Linked DNA regions of Homo sapiens: all the other regions are linked to region 2. The links come from fine-mapping of genetic effects on gene expression. A gene starts in region 2. Each other region holds a variant in brackets. All regions are shown on one strand. Distances are between the middles of the regions.

Region 1 (10,731 bases), 34 kb after region 2:
CCCCAGGTGAAGGTGGAGCAGGTCGCCATGGAGCTGCGGCTGACCCCGCTGACGGTGCTGCTGCGCTCAGTGCTGGACCAGCTGCAAGACAAGGACCCCGCCAGGATATTTGCGCAGCCCGTGAGTCTGAAGGAGGTGGGTGTTTGCGGCGCTCGTCTGTCCTGCCGCATGTGTGACTGTGGATTTGTGCTGCCGTTTGACCGGGAAACGTGTGATTGGCTAGAGTACATCCCTTGTGTTCTTAATTCTCGTTTTTATTTAACGTATTTGTTTTTAAATTATAAAAGTGATACATTTCATTGTAAAATACTGAAAGTGCAGTGGGCAAGAGGCCCTGTGCAGACAGTACCCTGGGCTGTGGCAGCATCCGCCCGGCACCCTCCAGCGTGCTTTAGCTGAAGGAGCTGGGGTCGGGAAGGTCCCTGCAGTACTTGGGTCTTATGTCTGTACCGTCTGCGTGTCTGTGTGTGGCTCTCAGATAGGATGGGCTTGTGGGTTATATGGAATAATAAATATAGAGTCAACTAATATCCTGTTTTAGTTTGTAAATGATTCTTTTTCCTCCCTAAAATTAGGTACCAGATTATTTGGATCACATTAAACATCCCATGGACTTTGCCACAATGAGGAAACGGTTAGAAGCTCAAGGGTATAAAAACCTCCATGAGTTTGAGGAGGATTTTGATCTCATTATAGATAACTGCATGAAGTACAATGCCAGGGACACCGTGTTCTATAGAGCCGCGGTGAGGCTGCGCGATCAGGGAGGTGTTGTTCTGAGGCAGGCCCGGCGCGAGGTGGACAGCATCGGCTTGGAAGAGGCCTCGGGGATGCACCTGCCTGAGCGGCCTGCTGCGGCACCGCGGCGGCCTTTCTCCTGGGAAGACGGTAAGAACTGGCGCCGTGTCCGGAGGAGGTGGAAGACGCTCTTTCTAGCAGACTCTGTCCTGCTCTGTGTTGCCAGCTCCCTATCAGCATGGTCCGGGAGCCACTAGCATGCAACCGCATACATCATTTACATTTTCTAGTAGCCTCACTGAAAAATGGAAAAGAAGCAGGTGGAATTTACTTTAATAATATGTCTTATTTTACTCAGTGTATGGAAGAGTTGATTTCAACATGGGATCGGTAAACGTTACTGAGGATATATAAGCTTTTCACCTTCTTTGCCATCTGATGTGTATTTTACGCTCAGCACCTGTCACTTCAGACTGGCTGCGTTTTGGGTGCCCACCAAGAGGACTGTGTGGCTGTGGCTCCCTATGGGGTGGCCGGTCTCGACGATGCAGACCCAGAAAGCAGCTTAGTTGGGGGTTTTCATCCAGAGTGGGCCTCGGCTAACTTCTGAGGGTGGCGTGAAGCCGGAGGATCTCTGGCTTTGCCTCCAGCCCTTTAACTTCGTGGTTTGCGCATGTTGTAGAAAGGGCTCTGGGAGTGTGTCCACGGCCCACCTGGACTCCAGCCTGGGCTTGTGCTTCTTGGTTGCCCAGGCACGTGTTGCAGCCATGTGTAGTCACCTGCACCCTTCTCTAGACTGGTCCTCGGAAACCGGGGCTGTCCCCTGCACCCTGCTTGTTAGTCGCACCTCTGGGATTGTCTGTCGAAGGGTGTGTCCTGCCCACATGGGTTGTCAAAGCACATAGAGCTCCAGCACCTCAGCTCCAGCTCTGAGCCACAAACTGAGCAGAAATCACGGTGTGTTTGGCTTATTTGTCTAAAGGTCCCATATCCCTGATTTCTTGGCCTACCCTTTCTCTTGATGAATCACTGACCCGTGCTAGGTCGCTTCTTCTGGGATGAGGCCTGGCCCTCTTCCTCTCTTCCACGTTCCCGCCATCGCGGGGTCCACGTTCCCGCCATCGTGGGGTCCGCTTCCCGCCATCATGGGATTCAACCAAGCTGGGCCATCGTTGCTTCGCCCTCTGTTCCCCTCATGGCAGCAGTGCTGGGCTCCCTGCTTCCCGTGGGGTCCCGCAGCACTCGGCACCTGTGAGGATTGGAGGATGGGCTGTACTCTTTTAAAGACTGGGGATAGGGCCAGGTTCTGTGGCTCATGCCTGTAATCCCAGCACTTTGGGATACCGAGGCGGGTGGATCACTTGAGGTCGGGAGATTGAGACCGGCCTGGCCAACATGCAGAAACCCCGTTTCTACTGCAAACACAAAAAATTAGCCGGGCATGGTGGCGCATGCCTGTAATCCCAGCTATTTCGGAGGCTGAGGCAGGAGAATCGCTTGAACCTGGGAGGTGGAGGCTGCAGTGAGCGGAGATTGTGCCATTGCACTGAAGCCTGGGTGACAGAGTGAGACCCTATCTCCAAAAAAAAAAAGAAAAAAGAGAGAGGCCGAGGCGGGTGGATCACGAAGTCAGGAGGTCGAGACCATCCTGGCTAATGTGGTGAAACCCTGTCTGTACTAAAAATACAAAAACAAAATTAGCCAGGCATGGTGGCGGGCACCTGTAGTCCTAGCTACTCGGGAGGCTGAGGCAGGAGAATGGCGTGAATCCGGGAGGCGGTGCTCTCAGTGAGCCGAGATTACGCCACTACACTCCAGCCTGGGCGACAGAGCAAGACTGTCTCAAAAAAAAAAAAAAGAAAACACAATGGAAATATATTTTTATTCTTTGTCTCTGATTTTCTGATTTTAAGAGTAACACGTTTTTCTTGGAGAAATTTAGAAAATAAACACAGGCTCCAAACAGTGCTGCTGGCTCTTGGTGAACCCGGGTGGAGCTTTAACCCCTCTCTGAAGCTGCGCTCTCCAGGCTGATCAGACCAGCTATCCTTTTCCGAAACATTCCCTTGGGGACCTGAGAGGAGCCAGGGCTGAGCCGCCTCAGAGTGAGCCCAGGGCTCCATGGGCTCATGCTTGTCCTGGAAGGTCCTTCTCTAGCCTCTGGTGACCGTGGGAAAGCTTCCCCCGCCTCCCACAGCCATCACGCTCTGGCTTGGATGCCTTGCCTGCCATCAGCTCTCAGACGCCCACCTGGTGCCCGCTGCTGGCTGCTCAGGACGTACGCTGGTTGCCTGCCCTTCAAAGCAGGAAGATGCATCACTCTTGGACTCCCTGTCTTCTTAGCAGCCCGGAGCCTCCTTTGCCCCTAGGGCCCTGCTCCTGTGCTCCCCCACATCATGCTCCCAGCACCATGCCACCTCCCTCGAACAGAGCAGGTGTGGAGGCCTCTGAGTGTCAGCGCCTTTCAGATCATGGTCATGCAAGTTGTTAAGTGAATTTCTACACCCGGGTTTTTTTGCTAAGGAGAAAATGAAGGATGAGAAGTCCTGGTTTCTTTCTTTCTCAGTATTTGGGAGTGCACAGGTGAGCCAGTGGCCATGGTGTGCCTTGAGGGTGCACCTGCTGCTCTTCTCAGCACGGCCGACACCTCCCATTGCCTGGAGCCTGAGCCACAGACCTGGAGGCCGTGGGTCTCTGTTTTGAAAGAAACAGACGTTTCGAGGCTTTCTTCTTGGGGTTTCAAAGGATATGTTTTTTTGTATGAACATTTTTGAGTATTATCTATGACATTTGTTCAGAGTGATGTTATGGATACGAGTCTTGAAGGACTGATTTGTTTCTCTCTACTACTTTATTTATTCAGCCAAAGAGACAGATGCTTTCAGTAAAACACCTGTTTCTAGATGAAGAGAGTTCATGTGTTTTTGGGCAGTCTTACTTTTTTTTTTGTCTTCTCTCTCCTTCTTGCTCTGGTTTTATCTTCAGATAGCTCTGAGGAGCAGTTTCTTTTCTTGGCCATCTCTTACTTATTTAAGGTAATTTGTGCTTTATAAATTTTGGTGTTTTTGAAAGCGAAGTTTCTAGGGACTTTGTAGTAAATACGTCTGAAATTCAGAATGATCTGTGAATTTTACAACCCGTTTACTAAAGCCACACAATGATCAGCATCTGAAGACTTCAGCTAAGACACCACTTAGGACGTGCAATGGCCCTAACTTAACACATTTGCCAGTCGTCACCTCTGTTTGCAGAGCCAGCGCAGGTCCAGCTGAGTTGTGCTGGGTTGGTGGAGCGTGCGCCTCTCTCTGGGGTCTGTGTGCTGTGCCCTCACCCAGGCAGCCAGGCTGTCTGCACAGGCAGCCTCAGTGGGTCCTGGTCCAGGAGAGGTTGCGATCTTACCTGGACGCTGCCCCTTCTGTGCTGACAGTGTCATGGGAGTAGAAATTCTCCATCAGGAGCATCCCAGTGTGTTCCTGTAGCAGCAGCTACTCGTGGGTTCAGAGTGCAGGGGAGGGGCCTCTGGTGAGCAGGGCCTGGGCCTCGTTGCTAACAGCCACTCTCAGGGCCTTGGCCGAAGGTGATTTGAAAGACGGGACCGGTGATGTGTTCCCAGAAGGTGCGTGGGACCTGATGACTGACAGCATGTGTCCTTTGGTTCAGTGGACAGGTTGCTGGACCCCGCCAACAGAGCCCACCTGGGCCTGGAGGAGCAGCTGAGAGAGCTGCTGGACATGCTCGACCTCACCTGCGCTATGAAGTCCAGCGGCTCCCGGAGCAAGCGGGCAAAGCTGCTCAAAAAGGAAATTGCCCTTCTCCGAAACAAGCTGAGCCAGCAGCACAGCCAGCCCCTGCCCACGGGGCCAGGCTTGGAAGGCTTCGAAGAGGACGGAGCTGCGCTGGGGCCGGAGGCGGGCGAGGAAGGTAAGCCACGGTGAGGGCTGCCCCGCTTTCTTGCCGTCACGGCTCAGGCTCAGGCACAGGCACAGGCACAGACCCAGACACGGGCAGCAGCGTTGGTGTGCACGGAGGCTCAGGTTAGCGCCAGTTCCGTAAAATTCACAAATCCCGGAACACTTGATTTTCCCACTGGGCTGTTGTTTCCTTTTAAGGAGACGTTATCATTTGTGCTGTCTGTGTTTTCTCACATAATCAGTTGATAAAATTTAAGGCACAGAATAAAATTTTTCTCTTTAACTTGGGCCTGAGAAACTATTTGAAAAGAATGGTT[T/A]AGATCTTACACTGTGTTGAAGAGTAAAGGTAGCCTGAATGATGAGAGTGAGAAATGTTTTTGTTGCATTTTGTAAATTGGCGGGGAGCCATTTAATTGTGCGCTAGGCCATCAAATGCAGCATTTTGAAAGGGCTGTTTTAGATTATTGGCACTTAAACACTCCTCCCTGATGTTGTGAAGGGAGGGACGGTACCTGCAGAGGCCTTGTCTGCCCCGAGGGTCCCCGGCCAGCTCCTCTGCAGAGTTGGTAGGTAGCAGCCGTGATCGTTGCCAAAGAATGTCTGGGGAAAGGTCCAGGCAGCAAAGATGTTTTTATGACTAAGAAATAAATGTAGGAGAAGAAATCCGCCTATCTAGAAGGAGAACTAGCAAAACCCAGGGCAAATGCAGGCTTGGCATGGTGAGGAGGGAGTTTACGAGCGATGGTCTGTGTACATCTAGGTTGGCAGGGTGAGGAAGTAGAGCTGGTGTGTCCCATATTTGGTGAAAGAGGAATTTTAAAACTAAATCGGATTTGGAGACGTTGATAGAAAGTCATTGCCACTGTGTTTTGCCGTGTGTCTCTGCAGTTGACCTTGACACGCTCCGGTTACACGAAGCAGACAGTAGGGTCAGACCCTCTTGCCACAACATTGGCAGCTGGTTCTCAGCCTTCTTGCCCTTCCCCTGCACATCCAAGTCAGAACAGCAGACAGTTGAAATAAGACACAGAATTGTTGTACAATTTTCTTTTAAAACAAAGACGTTCATCTCTTATGGACGTCTGTGCTCGGAGTGACGCAGTGTCTTCATGATGCCACACAGGTCAGCGGGTCCCCATGGTCTCAGGGCCCTTTTCATCCCCTGAACTTCTTGTGGCTCCTGTCTGCAGAGCTTCGCCCCTTTTATCCTGTTTTACATTTGGGCAACTTGAATGAGAGCCATTAAGCTTTTCTTTCTCTTAGAAACTTACTCCTGTGCACACAGCTGAGAATTTCTTATGCATCCTTTTGCTCATTTTGTGCCTGTTTGTTGTTCTGTTCTGGGATTCTTCTGTTTAGTTCACCATAGTATAGTACCCAGACTCTAGAATGTCTCTTTTGGGGCTGGCGTCAATTACGTTAGGTCCATAGAATAAAGGCTTTTCTATTTCAAGGTGAGCGCTTGGTTTTCTCTTCTCCCAAAGGCTGTTATTGTTGGCACGTGATCCCTCCTCTGCTTTGGGGGCCTCGTGTTTTTTCTGAGGAACGTTTGCCTACAGGACCCTCTGGCAGCCATACCTGTCCGGGCCCTGGGCCGCCCCATTGTGCCCAGGAGTCCAGGCTGGTGCCTGGTCCCGCAGCCTTTGCTTCCGTGCAGCCCACCGAGGCATCCTCTGGCTGTGTGGGCCTCCCTCTAGGTGGACTGCCCTTCTGTCCTTGTCTTCTGTGCCCTGAGGACTGAGCTGTGAGGAGGTTGCCAGCAGGTCCACTCACCATTCTCAAAATAGCTTCCAGCGCTTCTCTTCGCACACAGTTGTACCATTTTCACTGTAGAGCAGTAAGTTACCTTTTTAGCTTTTTTTTTTTATCAGTGGCTTCCTCCATTGCCATTGGGTCACAGGGCTGAGGACCCCGCACGGTTATTGGGTCACAGGACTGAGGACCTCGCATGGTTGAGGACCTCGCATGGTTGGAGCTGCTTGGCCCTCCGCTGTGGTGAGCGTGGCTCCTCATAACACCCAACGCTTAGCAGGAGCCTTTGGAGACCATTTTTGTTGCTTTGTAGCTCTGGAATCATTTTATTTTTATTTTTTTTCTGGGGCCATTGTAAGGAAAACACAATGTGACTGAGACACAGGTGGCCTCGAATCACCTGTTACACCCAATGTTCACAATGACTCAATTGATGAAAAGGGCGTTTCCTGTGAGCTGATGGGAAGGTGGGTGGAGAAGCAAGTGGCCTGAAAGTCCACTCCGAGGTGAGGCGGGTGGGGTCCTGCCCCTCAGAGAAGTTGGGGGTCTCTGGAGAGGTGGGGCGGGCGGGGTCCTGCCCCTCAGAGAAGATGGGGGTCTGTGGAGAGGCGAGTGCCAGACTGGAATGGGGAAGTCATTAGGGAAGACAGCCACAAGCAAGCTTGTTGGTTGGTATAGAAATGTGACTTACGATACTTATAATAGGATGAAAACCAAGAATCAGACATTTAAAAACCCAGCATGAACGTTCTCATCAGTAAAGCCTCTCCATCATTTTTCTTAAATATAACCACAATATTTTCACACCTGAAAAGAGTAATTCCTCAATGGCAAATACACAGTCTCACTTAAACTGTAATTTAACAGTCTGTGTGTTGTGTTTATATTTTGCTTCCACTTGAAGCAGCTTGAACAAGGCTGTAGCCGTTGAGTGCCAGGCCCCTGAGACTTTAGTGTCTGAAGGAAGGAGATGCCTCCTGGGCTGCACTGTTGGCCCCGGTCTGCCCCTTGTACAGGCCCTCCCGCAGGCTCTGCCGTAGCCGCGACTCAGTCTGCCGAGTGCAGAGGTTCGGGCTGTTGCTGTGAGCTGGCCCTGCCAGGGCTGACTTCCCCGGGGCTGCGTGTCAGCTGGGTGGGGGCCACGCCACAGCTGGGATTCCAGCCTGTCTGATGAGCCTGTGGGACGGATCTGCAGCTGGCAGAGGGCTTGTCTCCACCCTGTGCTGAGGTTGGTGTCTGCTGACATGGTGAGGCAGGTCAGTGCAGTCAGGAGGAGCAGGGTCCGCACCGTGAGCTGGTGAAAGGGGCTTGCATTTCGAGTCCTTGGGATTTCCAGTCACAGTGATGCCCTTGCCAGAGGCTCCGGGGCGTCCCCTTTAGTCCAGGGCAGCTGTGGTCCCTTGAAGTGCACGTGTGGAAGTCCCCCTGCCGTGCACGGGCGCTGAGCACGTGGAGAACTGTGGCCCTCAGGAAAGGAAGGATGCATGTTCCTCGGGGTAGAAGGTGCGGAGTACGCAGCTTTGTCCCTTCAGGATTGCAGAGGACGGAGGCTTGAGGCAGGGTTGTTGGAGGGACAGTGTGGTTGCTGCTCGTGAGCTGAAATGTCTGCCTGTGTTACGCTGTGATTTTCCAAAGCGTCTTGTGGCTTCGATACAGAAACCTTTGATTGACATAGCAGGTGGCCAGGTGGGCAAAATATTGCGGAATTGTTCTTGCAGACTTAACTAGGTTTTAGTTTCTTAGAGTAGCTGGTTTGGATTAGATAACCATTTTGCCATTTGGAATATGTGACAAGTTCCAGGGACTGGAATTCTAGGATCCTGACTGATACATTGACGGGGTCTGAGAGGCTTATGCCCGAGTTGTATCGAGCATGTTCTGAGCTTTTCCCATGTGCAGTTCAGTGACAGCCTGAGATGGCCCAGAGTCAGTGAGCTTTGAGAGGAGTCTTCCTTCTTGTATGTCAACTTCCAGTCACATTTCCACTCGAGGGACGGGTTGGGCTTGCCTGTTGTGTCGTGGAGCCTGGAGGCTCAGGTCCTGTTTTTTTCTGATTTTATGGATGAGGAACTGAGGCACTGAACGGTCCGGGGGCCTCTGTGGTCCCGGCTGGGGGAGGGGCCTGTGTGGTCCCGGCTGGGCAGGTGGCTGAGCACCCAGACGACAGCGACCTCTGTTCCTGACCACGGCCTCCTTTGTGCCTCTGGTCAGTGCTGCAGGAACGCATCCTTTAGCCTGCGTGCTGGCGGCTGGAGCCCGGCCTGCATGTGGAGCTGCCGCAGAGAGGCCAGGGGCGTGTGGGGTGCATGCATGGCTGAGACAGGGCCACAGGGGCCCGCTTTGGGATAGACCAGGGGTTAGGGAAGTCCCTGCAGCGTGGAGATGGTTATGAGTCCCACATGGGGCATCCTAGCTGGGCCGAGAGCTGGAGGTGTGGAGGAGGGGTTGTGGACCATGGTTGGGGAGGGCCTGCTGCAAGGCAGGGACGTCTGCACGTCTCAGGGCTCCTGCCAGACAGGAGTGGTGGTTCTGAGGGTTGCACCAGAAGCAGGAGATGGGGGTTTACGGTGCCCGTTAGATAGCTGTGGAGAAGGTGGGCTGTAGGTGGTTGGGGGAAGGGGGGTCTCCCGGAGGTGCTGGGAGGAGACTCCTTCAGGCTCCATCTCTGCTGGCCGGGTGCTGTTGCACCCATAGAGGCCAAGACTGGGGTTGACCACTGGCCTTGGCCCTGCAGAGGCCATTGGGATTGCAGTGAGCAGTTGAATGTCGTAATCAGGGCGAGAGCTCGGGGCGGGGGGGGGAGGCTAGGAGGTGGAAGAGGAGGCAGGAAGTGAAGTGAGGCCCCAGGCCCTGTGCCCCAGACACCAGCTGCGTCAGGACGCTGCAGGCTCAGTGCTGAATCCCCTCCTGCTGCTGTACAGGCACCAGGGATGCTCATGAGCAGCCTTTCAGCAGCCCTTCTCCGCATTGCCCAGTTCCCTCCGGCCAGTGTTCCCAGGTGTTTCACAAACACCTTTTCCTTAAGCCTGTTGGCGACATTGAACAGGAGGGAGGGAGTTTTGTCACCTCGCATGTGCCCCTGCCTTGGGATCCAGCATTCCCACATGACAGCTGTGCTCCCTGCGGCTGACACGGGAGGCTTTTTGTTGAGGTGAGGCTTCCCCCTTGTATTTGAATTGGCTGTGAGGTGCTCTAAGGCGCCGAGTGTCATTTAAAATCAGAGGCACCTCGCAGCCGAAAGCACTGCTGCCCGGCGTCATGGCCCAGCCTTGGGAGAACTTTCTTCAGCCTCAAAACATTGCTCTGAGTCCTGTTAAGTTGTGTAGTTTTGTATTTTCAAAACAACTTTTTGAATGACAATAGTAACCATACATACTTCAAACGGTTTTAGGAAAGTTTGCAGGTTTAATGAAATGAAAACTGTACCCAGTGATAATATATACTAAGGATTATTTAAAGTGTTTTATGTCACTTTAAATAATCACAAAATCCTTGGTTTTATGTCACACTTCCTGTTGTCAGTACCGGTCCTGCTTGGAAGGAAGCCTCAGTGGCTGGGCTTGGCTTGTTGTGGCGTCGCCTCGCCCTGTTAGCCTCGTGCCAGAGCCTGTCCGGCCCCCTGGACTCGGGACAGTGCACAGAGCCCCACAGACCAGCCCCAGGCCGTCCTCCTGACCTCGGGCTTTTTACCATTTCACACTTCCGGTTTTTATAATGTCAAAAAGACTTTAAAAAGAGGTTAAAGCCGTCTTTTTCCAAAGACTTCTTATTTTTAAAAGTCAGATTTTTTTTTCCTGAAAGCTCCCATCACAATATTTGGGAACGTGGCACGGACTTCTGTGCTGTGGGGAGCGGGGCTTTTTTCCCTGCCTTTCTTGAAAATCATCCACAGCCACTCACCACTCCCTGTTTTTTTTGTTTGTTTGTTTGTTTTTGCATTTTTGACTTAAGACCTTGACCAGAGATCAGATTTAATGTTGCCTTCCTTTTATTTGCTAACTTCGTGGCCCAGTAGAGCTCTGTGGGAATGCCCGTTTAAGGCCCCTTTAGTTATGTGAGATACCTTTTCTTCCTCAAGGTAAGTGAATTATTCATTGCAGAAACTGTCATGAACTCGAGTGACGTGTTTAATATTGGCGCATGTGAAATAATCTTTCACAGTTTTTTTCAGAGAGTAACTGTGTGCCTGGGCACTGCACCCAGGGCCGCAGCCTTTGGCGTTAGGGAAGCACACACAGTGTGGCCCGAGCCCACGGGGCCCACACTGCCGAGCAGACAGTACATGCGATGCCTTGTTTCCTTAACTGAATTAGTATTTTGGTGGACTTCA
Region 2 (10,731 bases):
CTGATGAACAAGTTTCTTTTTTTCTTTTCTTTTTTTTTTTTTTTTTTTAGATGGAGTCTTGCTCTGTTGCCCAGGCTGGAGTGCAGTGGCGCAATCTCTGCTCACTGCAAACTCTGCCTCCTGGGTTCACACCATTCTCCTGCCTCAGCCTCCTGGCTAATTTTTTGTATTTTTAGTAGAGATGGGGTTTCACCGTGTTAGCCAGGATGGTCTCAATCTCCTGACCTCATGATCTGCCTGCCTCAGCCTCCCAAACTGCTGGGATTACAGGCGTGAGCCACGGCGCCCGGCCCTGATGAACAGGTTTCTTAGGCACACACCCAGGCACGGAATGCACCTAGGAATACAAATTGACTTAACCCTACAGCCGGGAATGGGTATGCACACTGGGGGAGCTTGCATCTTCTCAAAGTGGCCACAACAACTTCTCCCATACAGCATGCTTCTCTTAAAATGTGATGATAACACATGTCCCAAGAGGTGGGGTCTGTATTCTCCCTAACTCTTGAATCTGGACAGGCTTGTCCCTATGGCAGAAGTGATGCGTGTGACTTCAGAAGCTAGGATGTGAAAAGTGATACAGGTCCCACCTGCTTCTCTTGAGACCCTTGCTCCTGCAGCATGGCTACTATTCCATGAGGATGTTCCCAAGGCCCTCAGCCCAGAGCCTGGATCAAGGTCCCAGCCACGTGAGTGCACCATCTTGGAAGTGGCTCCTCCAGCCCCTAGTGGAGGTGCCCCAGATAAGGATGCAGGAAGTAGTCTAGTTGTACCTGCTGAATCCTGCCCAAATAGCAGATGTGTGAACAAAAGGAATGACTGCTGTTTTGAGCTACAAAGTTTTGGGGGTGGTTTGTTTTGCAGCAAGAGGTAACTGATAAACATGTCCACTTTCACTGGGTAACGCCTTATGACCAAGATATTTACCAAATAATTGTCCCACTCGACATTCTGGCCAGCAGGGTATTGCTCTGCCATCTTGCCATCGCTGAGTATTGCCACATATGAACGCTGGTGCCTATTTGGTGTGTATTTTGTTTGCATTTCCAAATTTACTAGTAAGATGATTGGCCTTTCCATGTTCTCTGCAAGAAGCCTGATTATGACATGGGTTTCTTTGTTGATTTGGGTTTTGTGCATCATTTTGTTGGCTTGTTTGTCTCTTTCTAATGGATCTGAAGGGGTTCTCTATATATTCTAAATACTAATCATCTGCAAGGTGTACATATCTTTTAGTTTTTCATTCTTCAGTCTCTTTATGGTGCCTTTTGAGGAACAAACATATGATAATTTCCATCCTTTCATTTACGAAATGGAGTCTTGCTCTGTCACTCAGGCTGGAGTGCAGTGGGGCAATCTTGCCTCACTGCAACCTCAGCCTCCTGGGTTCAAGTGATTCTCCTGCCTCAGCCTCCTGAGTAGCTGGGATTACAGGCACGTGCCCCCATGCCTGGCTAATTTTTCTATTTTTAGTAGAGATGGGGTTTCACTATGTTGGTCAGGTCTTGAACTCCTGACCTCAGGTGATGCACCTGCCTCGGTCTCCCAAAGTGTTGGGATTACAGGCATGAGCCACTGTGCCTGGCCCCATCGTTTTATTTTTCATCTGTTATTTTTCAGGTGAATTTCTTGTAAGAATATTTCACCATATTTATATTCCATTCAGAGAGGTTGTCTTTTAATAGATGCATTTAATCCAATCACATTCCTCTGATTACTCAAATGTTTGAACTTAGTTCTGCCAACTCATATTATGTTCTGTATTTATCATGATTTTATCTTTTACTCATTCCTGTTTTTTTTTTGTTGTTGCTGCTGTCGTTTTTCATTTCGCTTTTTCCTCAGCTGTTCTGAAAGTGGTAAATTCTTTTTCCACCATTCTTGTGGAAACTTTCTGATAGTTAAAACTTTTTTTTTTTGTTTTTTTGAGATGGAGTTTTGCTCTTGTTGCCCAGGCTGGAGTGCAATGGCACCATCTCAGCTCACTGTAACCTCCACCTCCCAGTTTCAACCAATTCTCCTGCCTCAGCCTCCCAAGTAGTGGGATTACAGGCATGCGCCGCCACGCCCGGCTAATTTTTTTTTTTTTGTATTTTTAGTAGAGATGGGGTTTCTCCATGTTGATCAGGCTGGTCTTGAACTCCCGACCTCAGGTAGTCTGCCCGCCTCGGCCTCCCAAAGTGCTGGGATTACAGGTGTGAGCCACCATGCCCAGCTAAAATTTTTAACCTTTTTTTCTATCGATTCTAAAATCCTCGAACCAAACAATACAAGAGCTTTCGTGCACTTTCACTTCCTTCTGCGCCCCGCCTTACCATGTGTCATGTTGAGTTCATCCGGGATTTCTCTCAGGTTGATTTTCTTTTAACGGACCAGACTGATTTACTTGCTGGCATCCACGTCTTACTCTTGGGTCCACTTTTCACTTTGTTAAGGTATTTCTTCTAGTACTTTTACAGACTGCGTGTGTGGTAAATGTGGATGTTAACCGGCGGTGAAGACACCTTTATTTTGCTGTCTCACTGGAACGCTAGTTTCACTGTGTATGAGTTACGGTTCAATTCTCTTAGTATTTTGGCAACCCCTCCTCTGTAGGATGAGTCTGAATTCTAAAGAAGATCCTCTCCGAAGGCCTTCCTGAGTATCCCTGTGACATGCCTACGTTCGAGGCTTTGTTCTTCACTCCTCTGAGCATCACCTGCATTGTCTGAGAGGCCACTGTCCCCGTCTCCTCTTCTGTGAAGGGTTTCGTGTCTTTTCATCTTCTCTTTCATGAGACTGTGTCTTACTTTTGCTCTGTGTTGTGGAGAACCTCCAGCTTGGTTTCCATCTGGCTTCCCTGAGGTGGAGGAGAGAAGCGTTCGGGCTCAGCTTGCTTGTTTGGCCACAGGTAAACAGACATCTGTAGAATGGAGGTGACACGAAGCTCCTGGGTCTGGTGCAGAAGAGGTCAGGGCCCCAGTGGCCTGTACCCCCTAAGCTCAAGGGTGTGTCTGCAGGGAGTCCTAGATCAGGACTGACCACTGGGGCCTTGGCTGGGGTCCTACCTGCCCTTGAGTCGTCACGTCACAACCCACACACTGGGTGCCATGGGCATGAGGACTGGCCAGGAAAAGGCCTGTGGGGCCTGGCCCCTATCAGGGACACTTGGGCGAACAAGGCCACCCCACTCCCAATAAGGTGTTTGGTGCAGTGCCCCGAGCAGTGGGGCCGCTCGGCTGCCCCCGTGGGGACGGTCTGTCCCAGGGTGGACAGCTGCTCTTCCTGAGGGGCCTGCCTGGATGCCACAGGCTGTGCTGCTGGAACCCAGGGATTCCACAGCACCATCGTCCTGATCACAAATTCTCAAGGAAACCAAGGAGCTCCTGCCTCACCTTAAAACATTTGGGATTTAATCTTGGAGTGAAAATTGTTATGACCCCACTGAATTTTAGAGTTTACACAAAAGGCCAAAGTGAAGGCAGAGACTCAGGCCTCTCAACTCCCACCCGCAGGGGCCTTTTCTTGCAACCTTAAAGGGCATCTGCTTCACGCCGGCCTCGGCAGGGCCCTCACACTGGCAGGACTACTTGCACACCGGGCCTGACACTCACTAGGGGAGGCTCCCCAGCCCGGCTGCACCACCCACCTCTACCTAGTCGCGTGTCCCGGCCAGTGCCCTTTCCACTCCCACCCAGTGCCCCCGCAGGGCCCCCTCTGTCCTCTTAGGGACCTCCACTCCCGGACCAATAGCCTCCTGCCTCAGGGCCCCCCACTCATGGGCCAATCGCCCCCTGCCTCAGGCCTCCCCCCACTCGTGGGCCAATCGCCCCCTGCCTCAGGCCCCCACCAACTCGTGGGCCAATCGCCCCCTGCCTCAGGGCCCCCCATTCCTGGGCCAATGGCCTTCTGCCTCAGGGACTCCCACTCTCAGCTGGTCCCCCCCGCCTCAGGGACCCCCACTCCTGGCCGTTCCCCCGTCAGGGCCCCCGACTGGCGGCTGCTCCCCCATCCTGCCTCGGGGCCCCCCACTCCCGGGCCAATGTCCTTCTGCCTCAGGTACCCCCACTCCCGGCCCGTCCCCCCGCCTGTGGGCCCCCCACTCCAGGCCGGTGGTAGCCCCTGCCTCAGAGCCGCCCACTCCTGGGCCATCTCCTGCCTCAGCGACCCCACTCCTGGGCCAATGCCCTTCTGCCTCAGGGACCCCCACTCCCAGCCGGTACCCCCCTGCTTCAAAGCCCCCGACTCCCGGCTGCTCCCCACCTGCCTCGGGGCCCCCCACTCCTAGGCCTACGTCCCCCTGCCTCAGGGCCCCTCATTCTCCATCCTCCTGACCCCCTCAGGGACCTTCTGGCCCGGTCCTCCCTAACTCAAGGGCCCCCACTCTCCATCCTCCCGACCCCCCACTCCCAGCCCGGTCCCCGCCGCCTCAGGGCCCCCTTTGGCCCCCGCTCCTCGCGGCGCCCCCTCCCCCGCGCGCGGCCGAGGCAGCGGAGTCCGCGCGTCATGGCGGCGGCGGGCGGGGCGCGTCTCGCACGCAGCGCGCCGGGCGGAGCGCTCGCCGCATTGTTTGCTTCGCTGGGGAGCGAGCGAGCGACCCGGCCCTGGAGTCCGAGCCAGCCCCGCGTCCCGCGCCCGCCGCCCGCCGCCCGCTCCCGCGCCCGCGCCCGCGCCCGCCGGCCGGGCCCCCCGAGCCGGGCCTCCAGCTGGGCCCCGAGCCCGAGCCCGCGCCGCGCGAGCCGCTGCCCGAGAGTCCGCGGCCGCCGCTGCCGGGCCCGGAGCCGCCGCGGCCGAGAGGGGCCCGCGCCCAGGAGCGGCGGCGGGGCCCGGCCTGCGCGGCCGTTGGCGGAGGAGCCGCGGGCGCCATTAGCACCGCCTCGGCCGCGCCGGCCCCCGCGCCCGCCCGCTTGCCGGGCTCCCGCGGCCGCGGCGCCCCGAAGGTGAGTGGGCGGGGGCCTGGCCGGGGAGGCCTCCCCGCCGCCTCGCGGGCCGCCCGGCCGCCGCCGCCGCCTCGGCCCGGCCTCTCGGGGTTGTGGTGCCGACGCCATGTTTGGCGGCGGCGGCGGCGGCGGCGGCTCCGCATTGTCTGCGGGCCGGGAGCCCGGGATGCCGGGGAGGCCGGGCGGGGAGACCGGGGAGGTCGGGCCGGGCGGCCGGGGAGACGGGCGGGAAGACGGGGAGGCCGGGCGGGGAGACCGGGTAGGTCAGGCCGGGGAGTCGAGGGAGGCCGAGTCGGGCTGTGGGTCTCGGCGGCCTGGGCCGCGGGCGCCTGCCCGGAGTCCGCGCTCGAGTCGGGTCGGGCCTCGGGCAGCCGCCGAGCCGGCCGGGCCGCCCCTTATGTAACAGACAGGCCCGCCGAGCTCTGCCAAGACGGGAACTCCCTGTGAGCAGGGACGCGCCCCGAGATCGCCCAGGAGCCGCGCGGCCTGCGGCGGCCGGGCTTGGGAACCGGCACCGCGGCCTCCCCGGGCGTTTGCAGGGAGACGCCTCGCGACGAACGCGAGGCTTCCCCGGGCCTTTTAAAACGAGTGACACGATTGAGGCGCAGTTCACGGGAAACGCGGCTCTTGTGAGCGGACGCGGGAGTTCTGAGAATCCGTAGCAGCGGGACCCCCTGCCCCGCGGGGTGCGGCCCCGTCTCCCCAGAAAGCGCGGCCGCCCGTGTCTGTTTTTGAGGGTCTGTCGCCAGGTGGTTGTGTAGTTAGTGGAATCGGCGGATGTTTTTGTTTGGCCGGCCCAGCGCCGTCCCGAGTGCTGTGTGCTGCACACAACTTCGCACAGCTCAGCGGCCGCGGCCCCTGTGGCCTTGACCGAGAGGCCCGGCGCGTGGCCGGCTTCTCCCTGGGCGGGCGGTGGGAAGATGGAAGCGGCCGTCTTGTGGGCAGCCTTCCCCGCCTGTGGCCCGCAGGGCTCTTCGATGTACTTAAGGGAATTATTCCTTGAGAAGCTACGTGTGTGCCCCCGCGGATCCCTCCCAGTGGAAATGCTTGTCCCAGTGGAAGGGCCAGGGACAGAACCGGCCCAGGGGGGAAGCGGTGAAGCAGAGGAGGTCGTGGGTCGCCCTGCCCTGCTGAGGGCCTACTTTCCCCGGGTCCCAGTTGCATGTTGAGGGTATGGAGCTGCTGTGGCCGTGAAGCCTTCGGTTCAGTTCTCCCCTTGTAGAAAGTGTTGCGATGAAGAGCTTCACGGCTCCCTGGGAGAGAGTGGGTTTCCAGGGGCTGCTTGTCGTTAGGGCGACTCAGGACTTTGCTGTCGAGGGGAAAATGACAGGTTCGTTTCTGATCTGGTGAGTAACCAACTGTTGCTTCTGCCCCACCTCAGTAATGACGCGTGTCGGCGTCCCGGGTGCACTAGGGTCGCTCTCTGCAGGCTGTGGTGTCACCTCTGCAGGGCTCACGGGGCCGGCTGGGGGGTGGCTGTGCTGACAGCTCCCCAGGAATCCAGGGTTGAGTGGGTACCTGGAGGCCCTGGAGATGCAGGGGGTCTGAGGTTTGGCCGACCACATTTTCTCTCCTATTCCTTTCTGTAGGTAATTGCAATCTAGTTTCAACATACAATGAGGATTTCTGTCTGATACAGAGAAAGATACCCAGTGTCTGGAGGGTCTGTCTTAAGAAGTGCTCTTGAAGTCTGCTGGGATTTCCTTTCGGGACTCACAGAGGGAAGCCTGCTCCCTGAGGGCTTTTTCTCAGGCCCAATAGATCAGGGTAAGGCTGCTGTGGGTGCCCCTGATCCCCCTGGGCCCCGAGGCCAGGCGTCCCTGACGTGGCAGGGCTAGATGCAGAGTATGCCTTGGGCTTCAGCTGAGAATATTTGTTTTGCGAGTCAGTCACTGAAAAATCATTTTGCTTCCTGTCAGTGAAGTGTGGCGCTTTGGAGGGAGGCACTGCCCAGCAGGCGGTGGTCTTCACAGGAGGTGTCCACACACCAGGCACCCTGGGGACAGCTAGGAATAGACGCAGTCCGTGGTGTTGGGACAGCAGAGGCCTCTGCCACGAGGAGCTGGAGGTATGGGAGGCAGCTCACTGGTTTTGCCTACCTCTGGAAAAGCAGATTCTCCTAAGCCTCTGTGGCCAAGTCTTCAGGCACCTGAGCCAGCGCTGGCGACCCTCCTGGTGAGGGTCTCTGCAAGCAGCGAGGGGTTCCTGGGGGTCACCCCTCGCTGTGGAGCCTGAGTGGAGCGTCTGCCTTCACGTGTGCCGGGGAGAACAGAGATTCCCTTTGGCGTCATGCATGTGTCTGGATTCTCTCAGAAAGGAGGAGGACGTGGAAGGAGGAGGACGTGGCCAGCACCATGGTCTCAGTGGGGCTTGAGGAGTGCCCCTGAGGGGAAGGGGCAGGTTGGCTCAGCCTGTGGTGGTTTCCATGGTGGTCACTGCCAAGGCTCTGCAGAAGCGGGGTTGGGGCCTCCCAGGGGCCAAGACTGTCCCCTCAGACCAGTACAGGGCTCCCCTGTTGGTCCCCTGTGCCGTGTTGTGCGTGTGGAGGGCCTGTCTATAGAGGATGGACAGGCTGTGATCTGTCTCCTACCCCTGGCCCCAGCAGGAATGCTGCAAGGACTGTGGTGACTCTGGGCTCATGGGAGTGCTCTCCTGGGAGTAGTGGGGAGGGGAAGAGTGGTTTAGGGGGAGCATCCGATAGGACCAGGTAGCCACTGAGCATGCCTGTCTGGTGGGCATAGCCTCTGTGCCTGGTGGGGTCCAGCCCTGTATGTGGACTTCCTGGGGGACCGCCTGCATGCTGGGAAAGTCCTGCAACTGTGGGCTCTGGGCCGGACCCCTCCTCCTTGGGGAGCGTTGCTGTGGTCTCCGCAGCCTGTTGGTGTGGTCTGAGAGGGGACTGGTGTGTGGTGGTAGGGACGCAGGTGCTCAGGAGGGCTCCTCAGGCTGCCTCTCTGCCTGTTACTGCTGCTCCCTCCCTGGTCCTGGGGACTCGCTCAGGCCTGGATGTGTGGTTTTGGACACCTTGGAAAGAGGTTAGCTGTGAGTTTTGCTTTGATTGGGCTTTGAGCTGCTGAGCTAGATCTGTCCAAGCATGCTTTTGTGGTTTTCTCGAGTCTTTGGTCACCCTGCGTAGAATTACCTTTACTTTTGCCTTCATTTTAGGTAATCATTACCAAATGAGGAGGAAAGGACGATGTCATCGAGGCTCTGCAGCGAGGCATCCTTCTTCCCCATGCAGTGTTAAACACTCCCCTACGCGAGAAACGCTGACCTACGCTCAAGCTCAAAGGATGGTAGAGATAGAAATTGAAGGGCGCTTGCACAGGATCAGTATTTTTGATCCCCTGGAGATCATATTGGAAGATGACCTCACTGCTCAAGAGATGAGTGAGTGCAACAGCAACAAGGAAAACAGCGAGCGGCCTCCTGTCTGCTTAAGAACTAAGCGTCACAAAAACAACAGAGTCAAAAAGAAAAACGAGGCCCTCCCCAGCGCCCACGGCACGCCGGCCTCGGCCAGTGCCCTCCCGGAGCCCAAGGTGCGCATCGTGGAGTACAGCCCTCCGTCCGCCCCCAGGAGGCCTCCTGTGTACTACAAGTTCATCGAGAAGTCGGCCGAGGAACTGGACAACGAGGTGGAGTATGACATGGACGAGGAGGACTATGCCTGGCTGGAGATCGTCAATGAGAAGCGCAAGGGCGACTGCGTCCCCGCCGTGTCGCAGAGCATGTTTGAGTTCCTGATGGACCGCTTCGAGAAGGAGTCGCACTGCGAGAACCAGAAGCAGGGCGAGCAGCAGTCTCTGATCGACGAGGACGCCGTGTGCTGCATCTGCATGGACGGGGAGTGTCAGAACAGCAACGTGATCCTCTTCTGCGACATGTGCAACCTGGCCGTGCACCAGGAGTGCTACGGGGTGCCCTACATCCCCGAGGGCCAGTGGCTCTGCCGCCACTGCCTGCAGTCGCGGGCCCGGCCCGCCGACTGTGTGCTGTGCCCCAACAAGGGTGGTGCCTTCAAAAAGACAGATGACGACCGCTGGGGTCACGTGGTGTGTGCCCTGTGGATCCCAGAGGTCGGCTTTGCCAACACGGTGTTCATCGAGCCCATCGATGGGGTGAGGAACATCCCTCCAGCCCGGTGGAAACTGACATGCTACCTCTGTAAGCAGAAGGGCGTGGGTGCCTGCATCCAGTGCCACAAAGCAAACTGCTACACAGCATTCCATGTGACGTGTGCCCAGAAGGCTGGCCTGTACATGAAAATGGAGCCCGTGAAGGAACTGACTGGCGGTGGCACCACCTTCTCCGTCAGAAAGACCGCTTACTGTGATGTCCACACGCCTCCAGGCTGCACCCGGAGGCCTCTGAATATTTACGGGGATGTCGAAATGAAAAATGGCGTCTGTCGAAAAGAGAGCTCGGTTAAAACGGTCAGGTCCACATCCAAGGTCAGGAAGAAGGCAAAAAAGGCTAAGAAAGCTCTGGCTGAGCCCTGCGCGGTCCTGCCGACCGTGTGCGCTCCTTATATTCCCCCGCAGAGGTAAGCGTGTCCAAGCATTGAGTCCACAAGGAGCCTGCAGTGTGGGACCCTGGGAGGACGTGGGCACAGCCTGCAGGGCCCGTGCTGTGTGGTCATTGCGTTTCTAGTTGGCGCAGCTTCCTAATATTCCCCTGAAGTGTGGTTCTGCTTGTTTACCACGTCTTTTTGGGGAATAGATGTTGTAAAAGATTTTAGTCTGTAGGCTTGGAATAATCTGTAGTTTTCTATGTTTTTTTTTTTGGAGACGGAGTTTTACTCTGTCGCCCAGGCTGGAGTATAGTGGCGCAATCTCAGCTCACTGCAACCCCCGCCTCCTGGGTTCAAGCAATTCTCCTGCCTCAGACTCCTGAGTAGCTGGGACTGCAGGCGTGCGCCACCATGCCCGACAAATTTTTGTATTTTTTAAGTAGAGACGGGGTTTCACCATGTTGGCTAGGCTGGTCTCAAACGCCTGACCTCAAGTGATCTGCCCGCCTTGGCTTCCCAAAGTGCTGGAATTACAGCACTTGCTCAGCCTTTTTTTTTTTTAAATAGGGTTTTGCTCTGTTGCCCAGGCTGGAGTGTAGTGGCACGATTTCAGCTCTCTGCAACCTCTGCTGCCAGGTTCCAGCAATTCTTGTGTCTCAGCCTCCTGAGTAGCTGGGACTACAGGCGTGTGCTCCCATGCCCAGCTAATTTTGTATTTTTAGTAGAGGCGGGGTTTCACCATGTTGCCCAGGGTGGTCTGGAACTCCTGAGCTCAGGCAGTCTGCCTGCCTCTGCATCCCAAAGTGCTAGGACTATAGGCGTGAGCCACCATGCCCAGCCGTGCGTGAAGATTTTTAAGAATTTCAGTGACTAAACTTTAAGAAGGAATGAAGCCCACGCAGGAACTCTGTATGACTTTCAACCCGAGGGGCTCTGGCCTGGGCTTCCCAGTGACTGCCGGCATCGGGACATCCACTGCTGTGGCCTTGGCCCCGTTTCCCGTGCTGTGCCCCCCACTTGCTGCAGATGCCCTGAGGAAAGGGTGGCCAAACAAGGGGAGGAGCTGTGAGCACAGATGGGGCCTGCCGGTCAACAGGGCGGGTAGAGCCAGCCTGGTGCTGAGCTTGCAGCTTGGCTGGGGGAGACGCCTAGAGCCCCAGTACCACACAGACCCTCCAGGACTGCCGGGGGTCAGTGAGCAGGACCCTCTGAGGTGTCAGACCTGCCCCACATGTGAGGGGAGGACAGCACAGGTGGGACGCATGCAGGCTGAGCTGCATCGGGCGGTGAGGCTGGGAG
Region 3 (10,731 bases), 37 kb before region 2:
CCTCCGCCTCCTGGGTTCAAGTGATTCTCCTGCCTCAGTCTCACAAGCAGCTCGGATTACAGGCATACACCATCACACCCAGCTAATTTTTTTTTTTTTTTTTGTATTTTTAGTAGAGACAGAGTTTCTCCATGTTGGTCAGGCTGGTCTCAAACTCCCAATCTCAGGTGATCCGCCTGCCTTGGCCTCCCAAAGTGCTGGGATTACAGGTGTGAGCCATTGCGCCCGGCCTGCATCCGTGACGTTTCAATCCACCTCTGGGAGGCTGGGCTCCCACCCTCCTGGCAGATTTCCTCATTTGCTCAACCCTACAACACATGCACGAAGTAGCTGCAGAATTACTAACCCAGGCCACCAAGAAAACAAGCCTTCTAGCTGGAGATCACAATTCATTTATAATTTTTATCTTTTTACTTGGAGGTTTATAATCACATCGTGTCCAAGAGTTTCTTGGGTCAGTTTTCATTTTTCTTTTTTGTTGGAAGAGACAGTCTCGCTCTGTTGCCCAGGCTAGAGTGCAGTGGCACAATCTTGGCTCACTGCAACCTCCGCCTCATGAGCTCAAGTAATCCTCCCACCTCAGCCTCCTCAGTAGCTGGGATGACAGGTGTGTGCCACCACCCAGTTAATTTTTTGCATTTTTTGTGGAGATGGGGTTTCACCATGTTGCCCAGGCTGGTGTCGAACTCCTGATCCTGGGTGATCCACCAGCCTCAGCCAGCTTCCTTCCTCAAGTGTAGTTATTTTATTCATTTGAAATATAGTAAGCTCATTTGTTTGCTTGTAACACTGCCTATATTTTATTTTTTAGTTTCCCCAAATCTCTCAATAAAAGGAAAACTAGAACAGTAAAACCACAATCCTCTGATGTTATCAACAACAACAAAAAAGAAGACTGACAAGGTCTTTCCGTTAACCAACAAATGTAAGTGGAAGGGACAAACCATGAATATGGGTAAGTGGGTCCCTGATTTAATGACGGTTCAACCTACGAACCTGCAACTTTACGATGGTGTGAAAGCCACTGGCATTCAGTACAAACTGTACTTTGAATTCTGAATGTTGATCTTTTCCTAGGCTAACAACATACGGTGTGACACTCTTACATGAGATATTCAACACTTTATGACAAAACAGGCTTTGTGTCAGGTGATTCTGCCCAACTGTGGGCTCATGTAAGTGTCTGAGCACATTTGAGGGGGGCTGGACTAAGCTATGATGCTCGGCACATCAGGTGAATTAAATGCATTTTCCACTGAAGATATTTTTAATTGATGATGGATGGGTGTATCAGGATGGAAGCCCCCTTGCAGTCAGTATTACAAGGCCTAGATGGTATTAGATCTGGCAGCTGGAAAAGAAAGATGTCATCAAGCGTGTGATACACCGAGCATCCCCAAGTAGCCAACAGGTATCACTGGACGGCCCACAGAACCAAGCTGCTGAGGTGGGTGACTTTCTGCACATCTGCAAAGCAGAGGAGGGTCAGGGTCCAAGGTCCGATCTGGGGCAAAACAAAACAGCTGACACTTCTTTCTGGGGCAAAAACTCCCATGAAGAGAAGCTGCTGGGCCTACCAGGCCACCCAGAACTAGACAGAAAGTCAGCGAGAACAGAGAAGACTTGAGCAATACCGTCAGCCAACTGACCCAGTGGATGCACCGCAGTGCCTCCCCAACCGCCGCTCCCACCGCCGCCTGGCACACGCTTCTTCAGGGGCCCAGGGAACCTCCCACAGTATAGACCACATGCTGGCCCATAACATACGCGTTGGGCATTTCAAAAGGACTGAAACTATACAAGTCCTCTAAACACAATGGAGTTAAATTATAAAGCAAAAGAAAGAAATCTGGGAAATAAGCAATTATTTGAAAACAAAATACAATTCTAAATAACTCACGGGTGAAAAACAAACCGTGAGGTAAACTGGAAAGTGTTTTCAACTGAACGACAATAAAAATACAACCCACCAAATGGATGAGATGCAGCTGAAGTGGTGGTTAGCAAGAAACTGAAAGCTCTACATACCTGTGTTAGAAAAGATGACCTCCAGTCAATAAAGTACTCACCTAAAAGAAAACACTAGAAAAAACAGCAAACCAAACCAATGCAAGCCAAGGAAGGCAGGTGACCTCCTGAAGGCGCAAGAGGTAAGAACGTGCATTTGCCGAGAGCCACCGTTCAAGAGCCGCCAGCATCTTGATTTAGCCCAGTGAGACCCATCTCAGATTTCAGATTCCTAATTTCCGTTTGTGTGAAGCCACTCGGTTTGTGGTAATTTGTTAAAGCAGCACTAGAAAACTAATATAATAGGCAACAGAAAAGAATTCTGTCACATCTCACAGAAGGGTATGAGAAAAACTAAAGAGCAGAAAAACATCACTGCAGATAACGAAATATGCTCACAGAAAAATGTGACCTCAGATTAAATGAAAACGGTAACTTCCTCTTGCAAAGAAACTAAAGAAATTAAGAAAATGATATAAAGAAACAACATAAATCAGGATAGAAAAATTCTGATGTGAGATTATAGGTCCCACAAAAACACTAAAAATAAAAGTAAAATATGACTTCAAGAATGAAGACCTAAAAAAGAAGAAACAGGAGAACAAACTCCACAGATGACAGCTTAAGATAAATGAAAGGGAAACACAATTTTTTTTAATGAAAAAGAAATGAGGGGATTAAAAAAGACTCAAGAGAAACGGACCAATTTAAAAGACACGTAAAGAAGATCCAACATATGTACAATCAGAACAGCCACCCCAGAAACAGGAGGGGACAGGGCAAGAGAACAGAATACTAAACACTTAAAAACCTTTCCTGAATTAGAAATTGTCAAGCCACATAGTGAAAGGGACTGAGAAAATCCATCCTCAACTAATAACACTAATTTATTTTCTAACAAAATTACTAGACTTAAATCCTTTGGGCTCTCAGGCAAAGTACAAAGTCACTTGGAAAGAAAAAACTGTCATGATTTTGACAGCAATGCTTTATCCTAGAAGACCATAGAATAACATAGTTAAGACATTCAAGGAAAAAAGTGAACTAGCCAGGCACAGTGGCCCACGCGTATAATCAGCATCGGGAGGTGGAGGCGGGAGGGCTGCTTGAAGCTGGGAGTTTGAGACCAGCCTGGGCAATATAGTGAGACCCCCAGCTCTACAAAAAATTAAAGGGAAAAAAAAAAAAAAGAAAATGTGAACCAAGGATTTTATACTAAGCCAAACTGACCTTCGAGCACAATGAATGCAGAAAAACTACTATCAAGATGCAGGAAGTCAAGACATCTTGTTCCATGAGTCCTTCCTGAGAGATCTACCGGAGAGCAAACCTCAACCAAAACACAACAGAAACATGAGGACCCAATGTGAGCATTTATTTTTATTTTTGTCCACTCTGTCGCCCAGACTGGAGTGCAGTGGTGTGATCTCTGCTCACTGCACCCTCTGCCTCCCGGGTTTAAGCCATTCTCCTGCCTCAGCCTCCTGAGTAGCTGGGATTACAGGTGCCTGCCACCACACCTGTATTTTAATAGAGACGGGTTATTATTTTTTTTTTTTTGTATTTTAATAGAGACGGGGTTTCACCATGTTGGCCAGGCGGGTCTCGAACTCCTGAACTCAGGAGTTCCGCCCGCCTTAGCCCCCGAAGTGCTGGGATTAGAGGCGTGAGCCACTGCGCCCGGCCCCCGTGTAAGCATTTAACACACACAGTCACGTGCTGCACAGCAACACCTCACTCGGCAAAGAGCAGCGCACCCCACAGTGGCTACATAAGATAACGACACCATCTGTTTACTGTGCCTTTTCTGTTTGGACACACAAATACTTGCCACGGTGTTACAAATGCCTACAGGCTTCAGTGTAGTAACTGCTGTGCAGAGTTGCAGCCTCGGAGTGACAGGTTATACCATCTGGGTTTGTGTAGGTGCACTCTATGAGGTTCACACAACGACAACATCGCTGAGTAACGCATTTCTCAGAACACACCCCTGCCCTTAGTGAGACCCGGGGCTGCCGTCACTTGCAGAGCTAGGACTGAATAAGGGTTTGCAGGGGAGAAACACAGCACAATAGCTGGACTCCGTGGTTTCTGACTTCACGGGGGGGGGGGGGGGCTTGCTGGGATAGAACCCCATGGTCAATCAAGGAGCATCTGAACTTCATCGATGGTTTGACTCGCAATCTTTCAGCTCTACGACGGTTTAATCAGGGCTTTTTTTTTTTTTTTTTTTGGAGACAGGGTCTCACTCTGGCGCTCAGGCTGGAGTGCAGTACACAATCTCAGCTCACTGTAGCCTCAAACTCCTGGGCCCAAGCAATCCTCCCGCCTCAGCCTCCTGAGTAGCTGGAACTACACCTGAGTGTCACCACACCTGGCTAATATTTTAAAACATTTTTTGTAGAGAGGGGGTCTCACTAGGTTGCTGAGGCTGGTCTCAAACTCCCAGGCTCAAGTGATCCTCCCACCTCAACCTCCCAAAGTGCTGGGATTATAGGCGTAAGCCACCATGCCCAGGCTCCAATCAGGTATTAAGTGCATTTTCGACTTTGATGGGTTTATCGGACGTGGCCGTGTCCTGAGTTGCGAAGCATCTGTAGTACGTAATGGCTACACACTCTGTAGTTGAGACCCTGCATAACTACACAGAATGGGAAGACTTAGGCAAAAAATATCTTCACTGTTTTCAGTAATGATATAGGTGGCAGTTGTACTGCCATTGTTATTTTGAGATTGTGATGTTTGTAGCAAGAGATAAAACAGATGAGACATTATGCGATATTCCAATTCTCTCATCTCCACTGTCCTTGAGACCAGCACTCTCAGTGGAAAAAGAGGACGGAGACGTAAGATTAAAGCACACCCATGTGAACGCCCTGCCGTCAGAAAGCAGATCACACACTCCAGCAGAGGCCTAGAACCAGCGGCCAACCCAACAGCAGTGAGCACCTGTCACATGCAGACTGTGGTTTTGAAACTTCCAAGCCCTTAAAAGAAACCAGAGCTGAAGAAATGGCTTATTTCAGGTCTGGAGCCGGAAAAATACAAGATGAGCACAGAACATATCAGACAGCCAGAAACCTCTGAGAGAGTTCAGGAATGATGTCAAAAGGATCCAGGAGCCAGCTTGTAGGGGCTCTCACTGTCCAAAGAGGACAGAATTTAACATCCCAAATATGTTTAAATTCATTAGTTCACCAATACCAACATCAAATCCCTAACTGGTCGCCTCTGGAGGCTGATAGGAAAATGATTCATCATTGTGAAAACTGATGAATTTAAAAAAAGAATCAGGCATTTATCTTCAGTTTTCTCCATGAACTATAACACCAGAGAGTGGATAAGAAGAGGTTTATCTTTAATAGTTCATCTACTACATAAAGAAGCAATAACTCAGCCAGAACATCACACTTTTTTTTTTTTTTTTTGAGACGGAGTCTCGCTCTGTCCCCAGGCTGGAGTGCGGTGGCGCGATCTCAGCTCACCGCAACCTCCGCCTCCCCGGTTCAAGCAATTCTCCTGCCTCAGCCTCCTGAGCAGCTGGGATTACAGGCACTCGCCACCACGCCCAGCTAATTTTTGTATTTTTAGTAGAGACGTGGTTTCACCATGTTGGCCAGGATGGTATCAATCTCTTGACCTCGTGATCCGCCTGCCTCGGCCTCCCAAAGTGCTGGGATTACAGGCGTGAGCCACCACACCCGGCCTACAAAAAAATTTTTAAAACTTAGCTGGGTGTGGTGATGCGTGCCTGTGGTCCCAGTTATTAGGGAGGCTGAGGTGGGAAAATCACTTGAGCCCGGGAGCACCACTGCACTCCATCCTGGGCCACAAAGCAAGACCCTGCCTCAAAACCAACCAACCAACCAACCAACCAAACACAATCTACAAGAAACCAAAGGATAGAGGAACACACTGGGCCTCTCCAGAAGAATGCAGCCAGCAAAATCTAGACCGTGAGATGCACGAGTCCAACCACCAAGTTACCTCAGAAAATACTTCCACGGGAGGTGGGGTGGATAATGTAACCTGTAGATTCAGACTGAAAGGCTGGCCGGGTGCGGTGGCTCACACCTGTAATCCCAGCATTTTGGGAGGCTGAGGCAGGTGGATCACCTAAGGTCAGGAGTTCGAGACCAGCCTGACTAACAGGGTGAAACCCTGTCTCTACTAAAACTACAAAAATTAGCCAGGCGTGGTGGTGGGCACCTGTAATCCCAGTTACTCAGGAAACTGAGGCAGGAGAATTGCTTGAACCCAAGAGGCAGAGGTTGCAGTGAGCCGAGATCACGACACTGCACTCCAGCCTGGGCGACAGAGCAAGACTTAAGTCTAAAAAAAAAAAAAAAAAAAAAAAAAAGGAAAAACTTAACTAATATTTAGAGGTACTCA[G/A]TTCAGTCAAAACAACAAAGAATAAGGAAGTAGCTGCTGTAACAGTAAGATTGAGGCAGCCTCTGCTGGGAGGGGCTGGGGCGGCACGCACAGGGGCTCTGGAAGCTGGCAAGCACCTCTTGACCCAAGCACCAGTTACAACTGTGTCCATCTTATCATATGACTCATTACGCTAGACACTGATTTTATTCAGTTTCTGTATCTGTGCCACACTTTAAAATAAAAAAGGTTTAAAAACACACTTATAAAGCTACACTAGGCTGGGCGCAGTGGCTTACGCCCGTAGTCCCAGCTACTTGCAGGCCACGGTGAGAGACTTGAGCACAGGAGATCAATTCCAGTCTCAGCAAAAAAGTAAGGCCTCCGCCGCACAAAAAATAAGAAAGACAGAGAAACCACCTTCCAAGCGACTTTGCGGCAGAAGCGTTGGGGCCGCTCCGTATAGGTTCCACGCACAGGGCCAACCGCCCTCGGGGACTTACTAACAAAATGAGCCACTTGCATTCAATGATCTCAACTGCTCCGTGCTACATCCAATTCAGTAAAGCACAGTTTTTTCATTTTTCACATTCAGATTGAAGCAAATTAAATGAAAACCCGTTCAAGATACCCCTTCTCACCCTACCATCCTGGCAAAAATCCAAATGCTTAGTAATGCCCTCTGTTGGTCAGGCCCTCTCCCACAGTGCTGACAGGGTGCAGGCCTGTGCGGGGGAACTTGGAAGCACTCACCAAAATTACATGTATCCTCCCACCCAGCAACCACACGCTACGAACAGACCTGAAGACAGTCCTCACCAGAAACACAAAAAATGCAACACACGGCAACGTCAGTCACAGCGGCATCCCACGGCAAAGGATCAGAGCCCGTCAATAGGACCCACACATTCATACATGTGCTGAGCAGAAAAACCAGACACGCAGGGGCCAGCCACGGCAGCTCACGCCTGTAATCCCAGCACTTTGGGAGGCCAAGGCAGGTAAATCGTTTGAGCCCAAGAGTTCAAGACCAGCCTGGGTAACATAGTGAGACTCCCATCTCTACAAAAAATTTGAAAAAAATCAGCTGGCATGGTGGCATGCGCCTGTAGTCCCAGCTACTCAGGAGGGTACAGTGAGAAAATCACTTGAGCCCGTGAGGTCGAGGCTGCGGTAAGCCAAGATCAGGCCACTGCACTCCAGCCTGGGCAACAGAGCCAGACGCTATCTCAAAACAAACAGGTCAGGTGTGGTGGCTCACATCTGTAATCCCACCACTTTGAGAGACTGAGGCAGGCAGATCATTTGCAGCCAAGAGTTTGAGGCCAGCCTGGCCAACACAGTGAAACCCCATCTCTACTAAAAATATAAAAATTAGCTGGGCGTGGTGGCGGGTGCCTGTAGTCCCAGCTACTCAGGAGGCTGAGGCACAAGAATCACTTGAATCCAGAGCGAGACTCCATCTCATAACAAACAAACAAGAAAAACCAGACACACACAGTGTCAACAGCCCATGCTAACTTTTGTGAAAGACAGGAGGGGAAATGAGTTGTGGGTGTGTTTTGCTTACTTTTACAGGACGTAGCAGAAGTAAAAAGCGTTGCCTAGGCCGGGCATGGTGGCTCATGCCCATTATCCCAGCACTTTGGGAGGCCGAGGTGGGTGGAATGCCTGAGCTCAGATCGAGACCAGCCTGGGCAACATAGTGAAACCCCATCTCTACTAAAGTACAAAAAATTAGCTGGGCGTGGTGGTGGGCGCCTGTAGTCCCAGCTACTCGGGAGGCTGAGGCAGGAGAATTGCTTGAACCCGGAAGGCCGAGGATGCAGTGAGCCAAGATCGAGCCACTGCACTCCAGCCTGGGCAACAGAGCAAGACTCTGTCTCAAAAAAAAAAAAAAAAAGGTTGCTTAGAAGAGTGGTGGGGATAAGAAAGGTAGCTTTTATGTAGTTCTGACCTTTATAACAGGTAATTATTTTGTACATAAAATTTGTAAAAAATCCTAAATCTAAAAATGATCTGAAACAAATGGGCAACATAACCAGAGAAAATAATATTTGTCTTATTTCTTTCTTGGGAAAAATAAATAAAATAAAAAATAAAACAAGAGTATTTGTCAAGGAACTTTAAAATACAGCACTTTATTCATCCAAAGTGGAAGATAACTAAGGACAAAAAGAACTCAACAAAAACCTGCAAAGTTAACTAAGCAGTTTTCTTACAGGAGTGGTATTGTAATTCTACAACCTACTGTATGCACATTTTAGCACAAAACAAGGCCAATGATATTATTAAGATTTTTCAGAATAACATATAATTTAAGAATCAAAGAAATTAAGTAAAACTATATATATGTATTTTTTGTTTTGTTTTGTTTTGTTTTTGATACAGGGTCTCACTCTGTCGCCCAGGCAGCAGTGCAGTGACGTCATTGCAGCTTACCACAGCCTCAACCTCCCAGGCTCAAGTGATCCTCCCACCTCAGCCTCCTGAGTAGCTGGAACTCCAGGCACATACCATCATGCCCGGCTGATTTCTGTATGTTTTTGTAAAGATGGGGTTCTGCCATGCTGCCTAGACTGGTCTGGAACTCCTGAGCTCAAGTGATCCTCCCACCTCAGCCTCCTGAGTAGCTGGAACTCCAGGCGCATACCATCATGCCCGGCTGATTTCTGTATGTTTTTGTAAAGATGGGGTTCTGCCATGCTGCCTAGACTGGTCTGGAACTCCTGAGCTCAAGTGATCCTCCCATCTCAGCCTCCTGAGTAGCTGGAACTCCAGGCACATACCATCATGCCCAGCTGATTTCTGTATGTTTTTGTAAAGATGGGGTTCTGCCACGCTGCCTAGACTGGTCTGGAACTCCTGAGCTCAAGTGGTCTCCCCACCTCAGCCTCCCAAAGTGCTGAGATTACAGGTGTGAGCCACCACACCCCGCAAAACTACATAATTTTAATGAAAATTAAAATTAATTTTAACTATAATTCAAATTGACTGAACTCACAATGTTTTAAATACATATTTTCTAGCTGTGTCCGCGAACAGGGCATTAAGCAATAACAGACAAGCACAATGACTACGTCTATGGCCTGGACCTCGGTGTCCAGATGCCTTTCTGCACTAAAAGGAACCCAGGCGCTGTGGAGAAGCAGCTGACGCAGGCCTGGGAAAGACATCACCGTGAGCCTGGGACACTGGGCCAGAAAGGATGCATTCCCAGGACCACGTATGGAGTGAAAAGGACACAGGGGCCAGCTTGGAAGGGGCTCCCAACTAGTCACATTTATAGCTATTTGAGCATCACAAAACAAAAGGCTTTACTAGATTATGACATGGAATAAATAAAATCCACTAGTCCACCTTGATACTCAAGGAAGACAAAGGAAAAGTAAAAATTTGCCCCCACAGAGGTGTCTACTAGACCATCTTCCGCTAAGAATTGGTAATAAAGAGAAAGAACTCAGCATTTTCTAAGACGTAACAAAGAAGGGAAACACAGACAAAAATAAAGAAAAAAAGAACAACAGCATACTAAAGCCAAGGTGCCACTGCCCACAGGTTCTGGGGAGACCAGCAAACAGCATGTGGAGGTCTGATGGGAGCAGAGCGTCCACACACCCCGAGACACCCCCTCATCTAACTCGCCAACTGTGGGGGGCAGGGACACAATTTAAAGGGCCAGTGAGCAAAGTCGCATCCGTCCTCATGGGACAGCCTCCGCCCACAGTGCAGCACACAGCATCACCTGCGCCCCAAACGTGCCCCTGTATCAAATCAGGCCTCCCACCGCCAGATCACAGGGGGTGCTCCGGGGGCACCGGAACGCAAAGAGACCTCACAGCCACTGTGACACGTGGCCCTGTACTCGATTCTGGTTGGGAAAAACAGCTAGTAAAGACGTTGGGGGACAACTTCAGACCGTGGACTGGCTACTGGATGACGCCAAGGGACACAGTCACGTTTTGTAGACGCCATCGATGACGCGACTGTCATTAGACAGTAGAATGTCCCTTTCCCTTTCTTAGGAGAAAGAACACTTAGAGAAGTGTCCAGATATCTGCAGTTTCCTTCAAGACAGTTCAGCACGTGCCAGGTGGCAGCTGGTGGCAGTCACGGTAGCTCCAGCTGGGGGCAAGGGACGTAGGAGTGCCAACTCTGTAAGTTAGAAACTTTATAATAACCTTCAAACAACAGAAATATATTCGTGTTCAACTCAGAGCACACGCACTCTCAACAAGCTGTCGAGTATACCCAGGGAGGCAAAGAGCTATGCATCAAGACTCCGGGCCTGGTTCAGACGGGGACATGGCAGTTTCTCCTCCTGAGGACATAAACTACCATCGGGGCTACACC

The links. PIP is the estimated chance that this variant, and not a neighbour inherited with it, causes the effect.
Region 1: its variant is the best candidate, but not a certain one, in a credible set for the expression of BRD1 in whole blood (TOPMed, PIP 0.87).
Region 3: its variant is the best candidate, but not a certain one, in a credible set for the expression of BRD1 in whole blood (TOPMed, PIP 0.68).

What each region holds. Positions count from the first base shown.
Region 1 is chr22:49,787,962-49,798,692 of GRCh38, reverse strand. It overlaps BRD1 (bromodomain containing 1), which reads left to right. Exons shown (of 13, transcript NM_001304808.3): 5 at 7-135; 6 at 576-888; 7 at 4,399-4,659. Among named protein-coding and RNA genes, the nearest start is that of BRD1, 35 kb to the left of the region's middle. The variant T/A (reference allele first, on the strand shown) is at 4,967.
Region 2 is chr22:49,821,685-49,832,415 of GRCh38, reverse strand. It overlaps BRD1 (bromodomain containing 1), which reads left to right and starts at 4,543. Exons shown (of 13, transcript NM_001304808.3): 1 at 4,543-4,919; 2 at 8,085-9,465. The coding sequence starts at 8,099. RefSeq lists silencers at 4,409-4,478, 5,209-5,378 and enhancers at 5,879-6,078, 7,288-7,867.
Region 3 is chr22:49,858,330-49,869,060 of GRCh38, reverse strand. The region is part of intron 1 of ZBED4 (zinc finger BED-type containing 4); the gene reads right to left. It also overlaps a transcript of ALG12 not described here. Among named protein-coding and RNA genes, the nearest start is that of ZBED4, 9.9 kb to the right of the region's middle. RefSeq lists an enhancer at 9,584-10,121. The variant G/A (reference allele first, on the strand shown) is at 6,400.